Regions from separate parts of the Homo sapiens genome. Here region 2 is linked to region 1. A link means that fine-mapping ties the variant in region 1 to the plasma level of a protein whose gene starts in the linked region. Region 1 holds a variant in brackets. A gene starts in the other region. All regions are shown on their reverse strands.

What was found. PIP is the chance, under the fine-mapping model, that this variant and not a neighbour inherited with it causes the effect. Protein levels are from antibody-based Olink assays in UK Biobank. Linkage for the fine-mapping came from a reference panel and not from the study's own genotypes, which makes the PIPs less certain.
Region 2: CDH17 starts here. The variant in region 1 is fine-mapped to the plasma level of the CDH17 protein (UK Biobank, PIP above 0.99).

Annotation. Positions count from the first base shown.
Region 1 is chr7:100,945,212-100,950,585 of GRCh38, reverse strand. MUC3A (mucin 3A, cell surface associated) reads right to left here and starts at 1,052. Exons shown (of 12, transcript NM_005960.2): 1 at 901-1,052. The coding sequence starts at 961. LOC105375431 (a long non-coding RNA gene) reads left to right here. Exons shown (of 3, transcript XR_007060457.1): 2 at 3,835-4,019. RefSeq lists enhancers at 1-534, 535-1,513. The variant G/A (reference allele first, on the strand shown) is at 2,970.
Region 2 is chr8:94,206,226-94,211,599 of GRCh38, reverse strand. CDH17 (cadherin 17) reads left to right here and starts at 3,045. Exons shown (of 18, transcript NM_004063.4): 1 at 3,045-3,117. RefSeq lists an enhancer at 4,319-5,374.

The DNA of each region.
Region 1 (5,374 bases):
TGTGGCTGAGAGCTGGGGTGTCACGTCTCAACCTAGCTCGTGGGTGCCAGGGAAGTGGGGTCAGGGATTATGAGAATCCCCAGGCTACAGCCCTTGGCTCCAGGATGTGGCCCTGGAGGTGACTGAGAAGGGGACTCATGGGCCTGTAGGCTGGGTGGCCTGGGATCGGGGATCAGAAGCAGACACTGAAGTACAGAGAAAAGAGAAGTATAGAGGAATTGCGAGGTGTTCCTGCAGGGCAGAAGAGAGAAGCCTGGGACCCCACGACGGGTAGTCTCAGACGCACCCTTGGAAGCGAAGTGGACATCAGGAGCTCCCTGCCCCGGCCCTGGTACCAACAGCTGTACCCAGACACATGGGCCCTGGCCGGGGTAAGAGAGTGACGGCAGAGCTGGGGAGGAGCCGCCGGGGGACAAAAGGCAGAGAGGCTGAAACCAGAGGACCGAGACCAGGGGTAGAAGTTAGAGGGCTGTCAGGGAGGGAGAGGCCAGTGTGAAGGGGACACTCAAGCTGGGGGCGTGAGGCAGGTGACAGAAGGAGTCAAGACAGGAAGGGCACTGCTCTGGGAAGACGTAAATCCCACCCTCTACCCTCCAGCTGCAGATACAGATTGGGGCTCAGCCGCTGCAACCTGCTCAGTGCTTGGTGGAGAGTGGCAGAGACCCAGCTCCCTCACTCTTTCCCAACCTCGGTTTTCCCTGCACCTGGAGCTCTGGAAGAAACCTCTCCTCACCGCCCCCTCCCCCAGTCAGGCCGTGCCTCGGTTCTCCCTGCACCCAGAGCCCCAAGCGGTGCCTTCTTATCCCCCCTCCCCAGGCCTTACAGCCACTTTTCCCTCCCCTTTCCTGGAACATCACATCAGGAGCTTTTCTCCAACCCCCTTCCGCCTCTCCCCCTTACCTGTGGCCCACGGGGAGGCCTTGAGCATCCAGAGGAGGCCGAGGAGCCCCAACAGCTGCATGGGCCCAGCGGGCAGGGGGCTGGGGCAGAACAGGCTTCAGGACCAAGACAGCGGCAGGGACGTGGCCCTGGGGCGTGCACGTAATGAAAGTGCTGGTTATCGGTTTTGCTGAGCGTCAGGGCTGAGCACAGCCTCACCTTTGCACCGCCCCACCTCTCCCCTCTTCCTCCCTTCTCCCTGCACCCGGACAGACAGACGTCAGCGCTGTGGGAAGCGGGACACGGGGGAAAAAGATAGGACAAGTCCAGGAAGTGTCAGGCAGGAAGAGCTGCTATTGGCTCAGCCCCACAGCCTGCCTGGCCCACATGGAACTGCCTGGAAGCTGCCCTTCCTCCCCGACACCCGTGGAGGGTACCCTTGACCGAGGGCTTGGACTCTGGAGTCTGGTCCTACTCCTGCAGCCTCTCCTGAGTTTCAATTCCTCCTGCTGGGGAGACAGTGGCACCTCGCTCTCCTTCAAGCCCCTTCTGTCCCTCAGTCTGCCCCTGCTCCATCCTGTCCCCCGCAGGACCCCATAGGCCAGAAAAAACCGTGGGAGTAATTAACACAGAATTCCATCTGAAGTCATTTTATTATCTGAAGAGTTGGGGCTAGGTCCCAGAAAAGGAAACATGGATGACCAAAGGAAACACTCAAAAATACTAGTCTGGGCCCGGCGCGGTGGCTCACGCCTGTATTCCCAGCACTTTGCAAGGCTGAGGGGTGTGGATCACTTGAGGTCACGAGTTCGAGACCAGCCTGGGCAAAATGGCAAAACCCCATCTCTACTAATAGGCTGAGGCAGAAAAATCGCTTGAAACCAGAAGGTGGAGGGTGCAGTGAGCCAAGAGCACACCACTACACTCCAGCCTGAGCAACAGAGCGAGACTCCATCTCAAAAAAAAAAAAAAAAAAAAAAAACTGGTTTGGACCCAGCACATTGTTTGACCTATCCAGTTTGGGCAAAGGTGTGAAGAATAAACGTTCTTACCCAGCTGGTGGATGTGTAGGTGGGTTGGGTTGTTTTAAAAGAGTAATTTGAGGATCACTTGAGGTCAGGGGTTCGAGACTAGACTGGCCAACATAGTGAAACCCCATCTCTACTAAAAATACAAAAATTAGCCTGGCGTGGGGTGGGCACCTGTAATCCCACCTACTTGGGAGGCTGAGGCAGGAGAATTGCTTGAACCCCAGAGGCAGAGGTTGCAATGAGCTGAGATCGTGCCTCTGCACTCCAGCCTGGGCAACAGAGCGACACTTCATTTCAAAAACAAGATAAAGTAAAACAAATGTTCTTATCCAGCTGGTGGGTGTGTAGGTGGGTTGGGTTGCTTTAAAGGGGTAATTTGGTGGCATCTATTAAAATTTTAAATGAGTGCCTTAGGACCCAGCAATTTCACCCTCCATCTCTGTGTCCAAGAAACCCTTCAAGGCAGCATTCATGAGGATGTTTATTGACTCTCGATTATGGCAATTTTGATGGAAATTGGAAACAGCCCAAACGATTGTTTCAACCCAGAAAGAAGATGGAATAGTCACCCTACAGAACACTGTGCTCAGGCCAGATTCAGTGGCTTACGCCTGTAATTCCAGCACTTTGGGAGGCCGGGGCAGGAGGATCTCTTGAGCCCAAATGTTCCAGGCCAGCCTGGGCAACATGCCAAGACCCCATCTCTACCAAAAAAAAAAAAAAAACACAAAAAAAATTAGCCAGGCATAGTGGTGTGCCCCTGTGGTCTCAGCTACTTGGTAGGCCAAGATGGGAGGATCACCTGAGCCCAGGAGGTCAAGGCTCCAAAGAGTCATGATCGAGCCACTGCACTCCAGCCTAGGTGACAAAGCAAAAACCTGTCTCAAAAAAAAAAAATTATGAATATAAAATTAGGTCAGGGCCAGGCACAGTGGCTCACATCTGTCATCCCAGCACTTTGGGAGGCCGAGGTGGGCGGATCACTTGATGTCAGGAGTTTGAGACAAGCCTGACCAACATGGCGAAACCCCGTCTCTACTAAAAATACAAAGATTAGCC[G/A]GGCATGATAGTGCACTCCTGTAATCCCAGCTACTCAGGAGGCTGAGGCAGGAGAATTGCTTGAACCCAGGGGGTGAGGGTTGTAGTAAGCCAAGATCCCGCCACTGCACTCTGGCCTAGGTGACAGAGTGAGACTCCGTCTCAAAAAAAAATTATAAAATAAAATTAGGTCAGACCAGGCACAGTAGCTCACACCTGTAATCCCAACACTTTGGGAGATCAAGGCGGGATAATCACTTGAGGCTAGGAGCTCAAGACCACCCTGGGCAATATAGCGAGACCCATCTCTACAAAAAAAAAAAAAAGATAAAAAGAAAAATAGATCTAAATAGGTCTGACCATCCCTAAGGGAAGAAGCTTTGCGGAGAGAAACTGCAGCTCTTCCTCTTCCCAGCAGGCCCAAGGGACAGGATTGCAAAGGCAGCCAGCGAACTCTCTGAGGCCAGGCCCGCTGGGAGATCTTCGTGAGGGGCTGTGCCTCTCATGTCTCCTGGGGGACCTTGTCCTTATCGAGAGTCACTGAAGGGACCCTAAATAAGAGGCGCTGTGCATACCCACCAAGTGACACTGCCTGCGCATCGGTTGTGCAAATGGCTGCACCAAAATCCAGGGGACACATTGTATAGCCCTGGCCTCAGTGTGTGTGGTCAAGTTGAGGAAGTGAGCAAAGAAATGAAAAGCTAAAGAGTCCAAATGAGGTGGAGCTCAGAGCCCGACAATGACACCACTGGGGGTAACTCAGGGGAGGGGCCAACAGGGAGCAGGGCTACTCTTGGGGTCTTCCACTTCAATTTCTTAATACATTTGATCAAGTTGCCCAGCATGAAGATACTCGTTTGCAAAAAGTTTTGTTGTTGTTTTTCAGAGCAGTCTCTGTGGAAACTGCTGAGCCACATGGTCAAGCACCACAGCCAGCCAAGACGCTGCAAACCAAGCTGGAGGTTTCGGGGGTTTCCAGTCTTTTTTTTTTTTTTTTTTAAGTATCAAACACCATAAAATTCCCATCACTGTTCTGGAGACACAGACGTAAATGGAAAATGGATTCCTGTTGTAAGTAAAGATCACCAGGCTCCTGGGGAGATGGATCCCAGATCTACCCCCATCCACCACCCCTTCTGTCCATCACCTCTCTAATACCCACACCCCCTTCTGCTCCAGCCACCAGACCCCCAACCTCAGCCTCTGCTCCACTCCAGGCCCTTGCCTGAGCCATTCCTACACCTGCAGTGCCCTCCTGCTCCTCCGCTTTCTCTCACCTGTGAAAATCCCACCTTTCCTTTACAGTTCTACACCTTCCTCACCTCCTCCAGGAAGTCATGTGCAATCAGGAAGTGACCTTTTCCAGTCCTGGAATTTTTTTTGTTTTTTGTTTTTTTTGAGGTGGAGTCTCACTCCGTCGTCCAGGCTGAAGTGCAATGGAGTGATCCCGGCTCACTGCAACCTCTGCCTATGGGTTCAGGAGAGTCTCCTGCCTCAACCTCCCAAGTAGCAGGGGTTACAGGCATATGTGCCACCATACCTGGCTAATTTTTTTGTGTATTTTTAGTAAAGATGGGGTTTCACCATATTGGCCAGGCTGGTCTCAAACTCCTGCCCTCCAGTAATCCTCCCACCTTGGCCTCCCAAAGTGCTGTGATTACAGGTGTGAGCCACCACATCTGGCCCACTCCTGAAATTAATGGTGCTCATTACTGAAATCTCTCCCATGATGCAAACTTACTATCTCCTAGCTGGGAGCACAGTCATTTGAACGCCTGCCCAGAAGGGAGAGGGAAAGGTGACATCTTTGCATTCTGAATGGGGACAAGTGGCCACTTTCCCTGCAGAGCCTGGGTAGGAGCCCCGCCCCACTCAGGGAGGTGATGGATGAGCTAAGACTGCAGGAATCCTCTGTCTGCGGTTTGAGAATGCCCCATGCCCACATTGGGGTCCAGCTTTCGTGGGGAAGCTGGAGAAGATGGAAGAGAAAAGAGTGTTCTATTGGGGTTGGGAGACATGGCTGTAATGTCAGATGCTGCTGACTGTAGGCTGCCCACACACAACTGAGACTGGGAGCTGGCTCCAGAAATTAATCAGATTCCAGCCAGAGCTCAAGACAGGCAAGAGGATTGCTGGGGAGAAGGAAGGAGCAGAGCTGTGGGAAGACTATGCTGACGATGGCAGTGTCGGCCCAATCATCAGTGACACTTGCCATCGGGTCCCTTCCTAGTGACACTGAAATGGAATGCACAGGAAGTCAGTGGGGGGCACTGGTCTCCCTCCAAGGTCACTTTTGTCACAGGTACCTGGGGGAAGACGTGAATCCAGAAACGTACAGGCCGGGACCAGCCCCCAAATATCAAGGATTAGGGAGGGACATGTTGAAACTAGGGCTATGGGCTGGACACAGTAGCTCACGCCTGTAA
Region 2 (5,374 bases), not on the chromosome of region 1:
GGCTCATGCCTGTAATCCCAGCACTTTGGGAGGCCAAGGCAGGCAGATCACCTGAGGTCAGGAGCTCAAGACCAGACTGGCCAACATGGTTAAACCCCGTCTCTACTAAAAATATAAAAAATTAGCCGGGTGTGGTGGTGGGCACCTGTAATCCCAGCTACATGGGAGGCTGAGGCAGGAGAATCACTTGAAACTGGGAGGCGGAGGTTGCAGTGAGCTGAGATTGTGCCATTGCACTCCAGCCTTGGGGACATCAAGACTCCATCTCAAAAAATAAATAAAATAAAATAAAAAAGAATATAAATATTAGAAATGTAACATGCTTTGACTTTTAGGAATAATTCCAAGTTTTCATAACTTTTTTGTCTGGGAGGCTATCTAGACTTTCTTACAAATGTCCATAAATTAATTACTTATTTATGGACATTTGTATTTTCTAGGGATAATATTGGAGGAATGCTTAAAACATTATAGACAAAAGCGTTGAAATGTTTTCACCACCATGAAGCTGTGAGTTGAAAGCATTAGCCCAAGTCCTTTCACTTGTTCAGTTTTGTTTTCTTTTTTTTTTTTTTTTTTGAGATGCAGTCTTGCTCTGTCGGCTAGGCTGGAGTGCAGTGGTGCAATCTCGGCTCAATGCAACCTCCACCTCCCAGGTTCAAATGATTCTCCTGAGTCAGCCTCCTGAGTAGCTGGGATTACAGGCACCTGCCACCACACCTGGCTAATTTTTGCATTTTTAGTAGAGATGAGGTTTCACCATGTTGGACAGGCTGGTCTCAAACTCCTGACCTCAGGTAATCTGCCTGCCTCAGCCTCCCAAAGTGCTGGGATTACAGGTGTGAGCCACTGCGCCTGGCCTTCAGTTGTTTTCATCCTATAAATCATACCTCCTTTGCTTTGGAAAATTAAATCAGTAATATTTATCAATTACATTTTCCTTATTCCTATTATTAGCAAGTCTATTGAACCAGCAATGTCTCACTTTTCATGAAAATGAGTTCCTAAAATGCAGTGGTGGCTACCTGAAACGTGCACATTCTTAACATTTGGATTTAATCTGGAAGGATGTCTAAACCATGTAAGGAATATATGAACAGCTCTCAGAATCTTGTTAACCTGGTATCCCACAGTACAGAAATAGCTTCTGTAATTCAGAAATGCAATAATCACCTGTTAATTTCTCTGATGGGTGGTTTAGGCATTTTCAGTGTTTAATTAACCTAATTCTTTGAGCTGGAAGCTGGGGGCTAGAGATAGCAAGTGATGTACAGAGGAACCCCATTTCGGAACTTGGCCATCTTCCAACAGGAATGGGCTCATGCAGGGATTTCTGCCCTTGGACTTTTTTTTTTTTTTTTTTTTTTTTTTTTACTCGCATAAAGCTGGAAGGAAAAAAATCTGGCAGAGTCTATAGCTGTAGTGAATAGGATGGGATTTGAATCAGAACAGGGTTGCAGTCCCGATTCTGTAGTCAAAGGCTGTGTGACTTAGACAAGAAATAAAACCTCTCTGTGTCCCCATTTTCTGTCTATAAACTGGAATCTACTTTGCAGACATGCTAAATGAGAAAACAGAATTTTAATTGATATACCAACATGTCACGATCATTGTTATTGTTGCTGAAAAACAATGACTATAAATGATACATATGCACTTTATTTTTGAAAAAAAAAAACTCATAAATTTAAAAGCACTTTATTATTTTAAAATTTTCAAAGAAGACCCAAACTTCTTTATGAACAATGCTGTGTGATGAGATGCTTGCCCTTGATTCCAGGAACTGAAACATGTGGCAAGTGGAAGCGATTTGATTTTGTAGAACAAGCACACTTTATTCAGCTAATGGGAGGGCAGAGGTGTGAAGAATGTGAGAAGTGCTTAGCCTCAATAACCTCATTCTTCTAAATGAGTGATGCTGGCTGTGGGACAAAGCAAGAAGGGCCTTTGCTGAACCCACCAGTCCACCAAGGATGTTAACAGCTGGCATGCAACTAGATGGTTTCACTTGCAGGGTCCTCAGGATAAATGAGGTCTATTCCCACAGTGGCTTAGAGCACTCATGAAACCTTCTCATGAAATCTGGAAAGGAGGGAGCCCTTCTAGAGAGTGGGCTGGGCTCTCTTGCTTTCCCTCTGTCAGATGCACACCTGGAGAGGAATGGAAAACACAACCTCAGCTCAGGAGAAGCCAAGAAATGAACATGAGAAGGTCCACAGAAACAGGGCCAAGTGTAACACACCAGACACAGACATGACATTGATGCTCACCTTCAGTGTGGATTCCCAGAGTGACCAAAGTGTGGAAATCAGGAATTGGTCTAAAAGAAGCCTTGACTTGAGAAATCTGGGGGCATTGGCTTTTATTGGTTAATCAAAAACCTCATTTTGATTGGGGAAAAATAAGTTGTTCCTAGGTAAATCCATTCCCTGAATTGTGGGGGGGAAAAAAGGACTTGGTTTGTGTTTGGGGGAAATTTGCTATCGGTTGTTTCTTGCAGACTTTGGAAGGGACCCTTGGATTTCAAAAGCAGGCACAGCCATATTGTGTCTTTCCTCATGTCTTCTGAGTCATTTATGATATCTCATGTGGCTGGTTATCAATGAACTGTGTCATTGCTCAGACATGGCGCCCCTGCTCCGTCTTTTGTGTTTGAGATGGAATCTACATAAATATTTGCTGATCAAGTCTCCTGTGCTAAGTGTTGGGGGTACAAAATATGGAAAGTCTTTGATGTCATGAACCTCACACTCTAGAGATAGTTGGATACACAAAAACTTTTCCACTCTAACTTCTTGTCTTTTCATTGACTCATCTACATTGAAAAATGTAGCAACCTGTTTTGAGATGGATTAGATGTAAGTTAAACTTCTTTTGATACAAAGTCATTTCTTTCCTGGAGTAAAAGTAATGACACTTTTTATGATACCCAGTGGCTCTCGAAGAGCAATAAAAAATGTTAATGGTTAATGTTTGACTGAAGCTGAAGGGAGAGGCTGGGAGGCAAAGCAGGGAAGAGGGAGTGTTCCCGGGGGAGATACTCCAGTCGTAGCAAGAGTCTCGACCACTGAATGGAAGAAAAGGACTTTTAACCACCATTTTGTGACTTACAGAAAGGTAAGGGCTGACATGTCTTAACTGTGTCAGTAACGTATTTATTCCAGAAGGACAAAGTAGATGGAGGGGGAGGGCACTTAAAAAGTTGCTTGACAAATTTGTTCCTTGAGGTGGGCTATGCAGATGCGGAGAAGGGAAATTTGTTGCTGGCATGACAAGTTTTGCTTATGGAGCACAATTTTTTTTTGTAGTTTCTTTTCATTGGTCCATATTTTATAAATTCATTTGATGAAGTGGCTGCAGTGAAATCAAGCTTGGCAGTGGAATTAAAGGGGAAATTGAGTTCTCTGATGTTTAAACAAGTATCACATCCATTCTTTGTGATGAGTATATAAAAGTCCCTGGTCTTAAGATGCTCTAGGGCTCTTGTATTCTAGAAATTGGGGTTGGAATCACATTCTCAAAAAGCATGTCATTCTATCTACTTCTCAGAGAATGAGATTCAATTTGGGATTCTTAGAATTGTCTAGGACACAGCAAGGGAGGGAACATGCAGAGAAGAAGAAAAGTCTTTTTGTAAAAGTACTAGAATAAGAATTGAAGACAGACAGACCTGCCTTCACAAGTGAGAGAAGAGGCTGATGTGCGTGTTAATCAGCTTCCTGGGCTGCTTTTGGCCTTGGTGGTGGAGTTACCACCTGCTAATGTGTGGTTATTTTTATGTTAAGCCACACACAGCTTATTGGTATCTTCAATGGTCCGATATTTGCCTCTGTCTTGGTCTTTTATGACAGGTGACTTTATAGGGACAGATGCCCTCTGTGGTAGGGGATGCCAAGCAGCAGATTGGAAGGACAGTGCCTTCTCTAATATTTTCTTGTCTTTATTTTTCTTCAAAAGCTTAAATAGCAAATGAGGCATTATTTGAAAGAAGAAGAAAAAACACATGTTTAGATGAAAGGAAGATGAATGCTATTCAGCTCTCACCAGGAAACAAAGCGAGTCCTTTACTGAGAGAGGGTTTCTAGTGAGTTACGGGGCCATATGAGTCTTCAGGGTTGGCCAAATGGGTTAGGCCAGTTTCATCATTTTCCAACCTGTGGGCACAGAACAGAGAGCTGCCACTAGAGACTTGCCTAACTAGGTAGTTGTGAGAAGTAAATTAGATAAGTAGGTAAAGAGCTTACTATGTTGCTTGGTGCATGGTACACATCCAGTGAATGTTAGCGCTCTGTTCCATGAGAAAGTTCAAGTAGGTGACTCAGGATGAATTGAGAAATTTTTGTTTCATTCTTTAGAAAAATAAGAAAAAAATCAGTGATGCCATAAAAATAGCATCTACCATTATGCAAGAGAGGAACTAATTCTATGTTCAGGAAGTAGGATTCAAAAATATGAGAATAATAAAACTATTGGTTTTGCTATATATATAGCATTTTAAAGCCCCTCTCATGGTTCCCATATAAGTCTTTGGGTGAGGTGCAGGTGGGGCATCCTTTGAAACTCACCCAGATGACCCCTGAAAAAAGTCATCACTGTTCAAGGTGAAGGTTACATTTCCGGTACCTCCTCCTTTCTCATACAAAAGGCAAAATATGGCTGGGTGTGGTGGGTCATTCCTGTAATTCCAGTACTTTGAGAAGCTGAGGAGGGAGAACCGCTTGTGCTGGAGTTCAAGACCAGCCTGGAAGGTCTGAACATAGGGAGATCCAGACTGTACAAGAAAATTAAAAATTAGCCAGGCATGATGGCACTTACCTATAGTCCTAGCGACTTGGGAGGCTGAGGTGAGAGGATTCCTTAAGCCCAGGAGGTTGAGGCTGCAGTGAGTCATGATTGTGCCACTGCATTCCAGCCTGGGTGACAGAGTGAGAACCTGTCTCAAAAAAAAAAAAAAAAAAAATCTGGATGATGTGCAAAATATATCCTGGCAGAAACTCTACTTCTCGTTCCATTGTCAAAAAAAATGTCTAGAAGGATGTGTCCCTCATTTTTCTTCCACATTAACAGCAACAGCTCTGAGGAGGAAAGCTGGGCATTGTCATGCTCCTTGCTCTGGAGGCCGACAAACAGTGCTTGAACAGAAGCTGGTTCACATGGGTAGAGATGTATAGATTTGACATAAAATTGCATTGATTCAGAAATCTCTGGTATCAGATTTAGAATGGGGCTAGTTGTTCTGTAACTGCTCGTTGATTATCCAAAGAAAGACACACGGAATTTTAAGGGAATACCTATCTACTTATTTGTTACTTGTAAGAACAGACAGGAAGAAGAAGGAATGTTTACTTAGGTACAAGAAATATTAACTTAATAA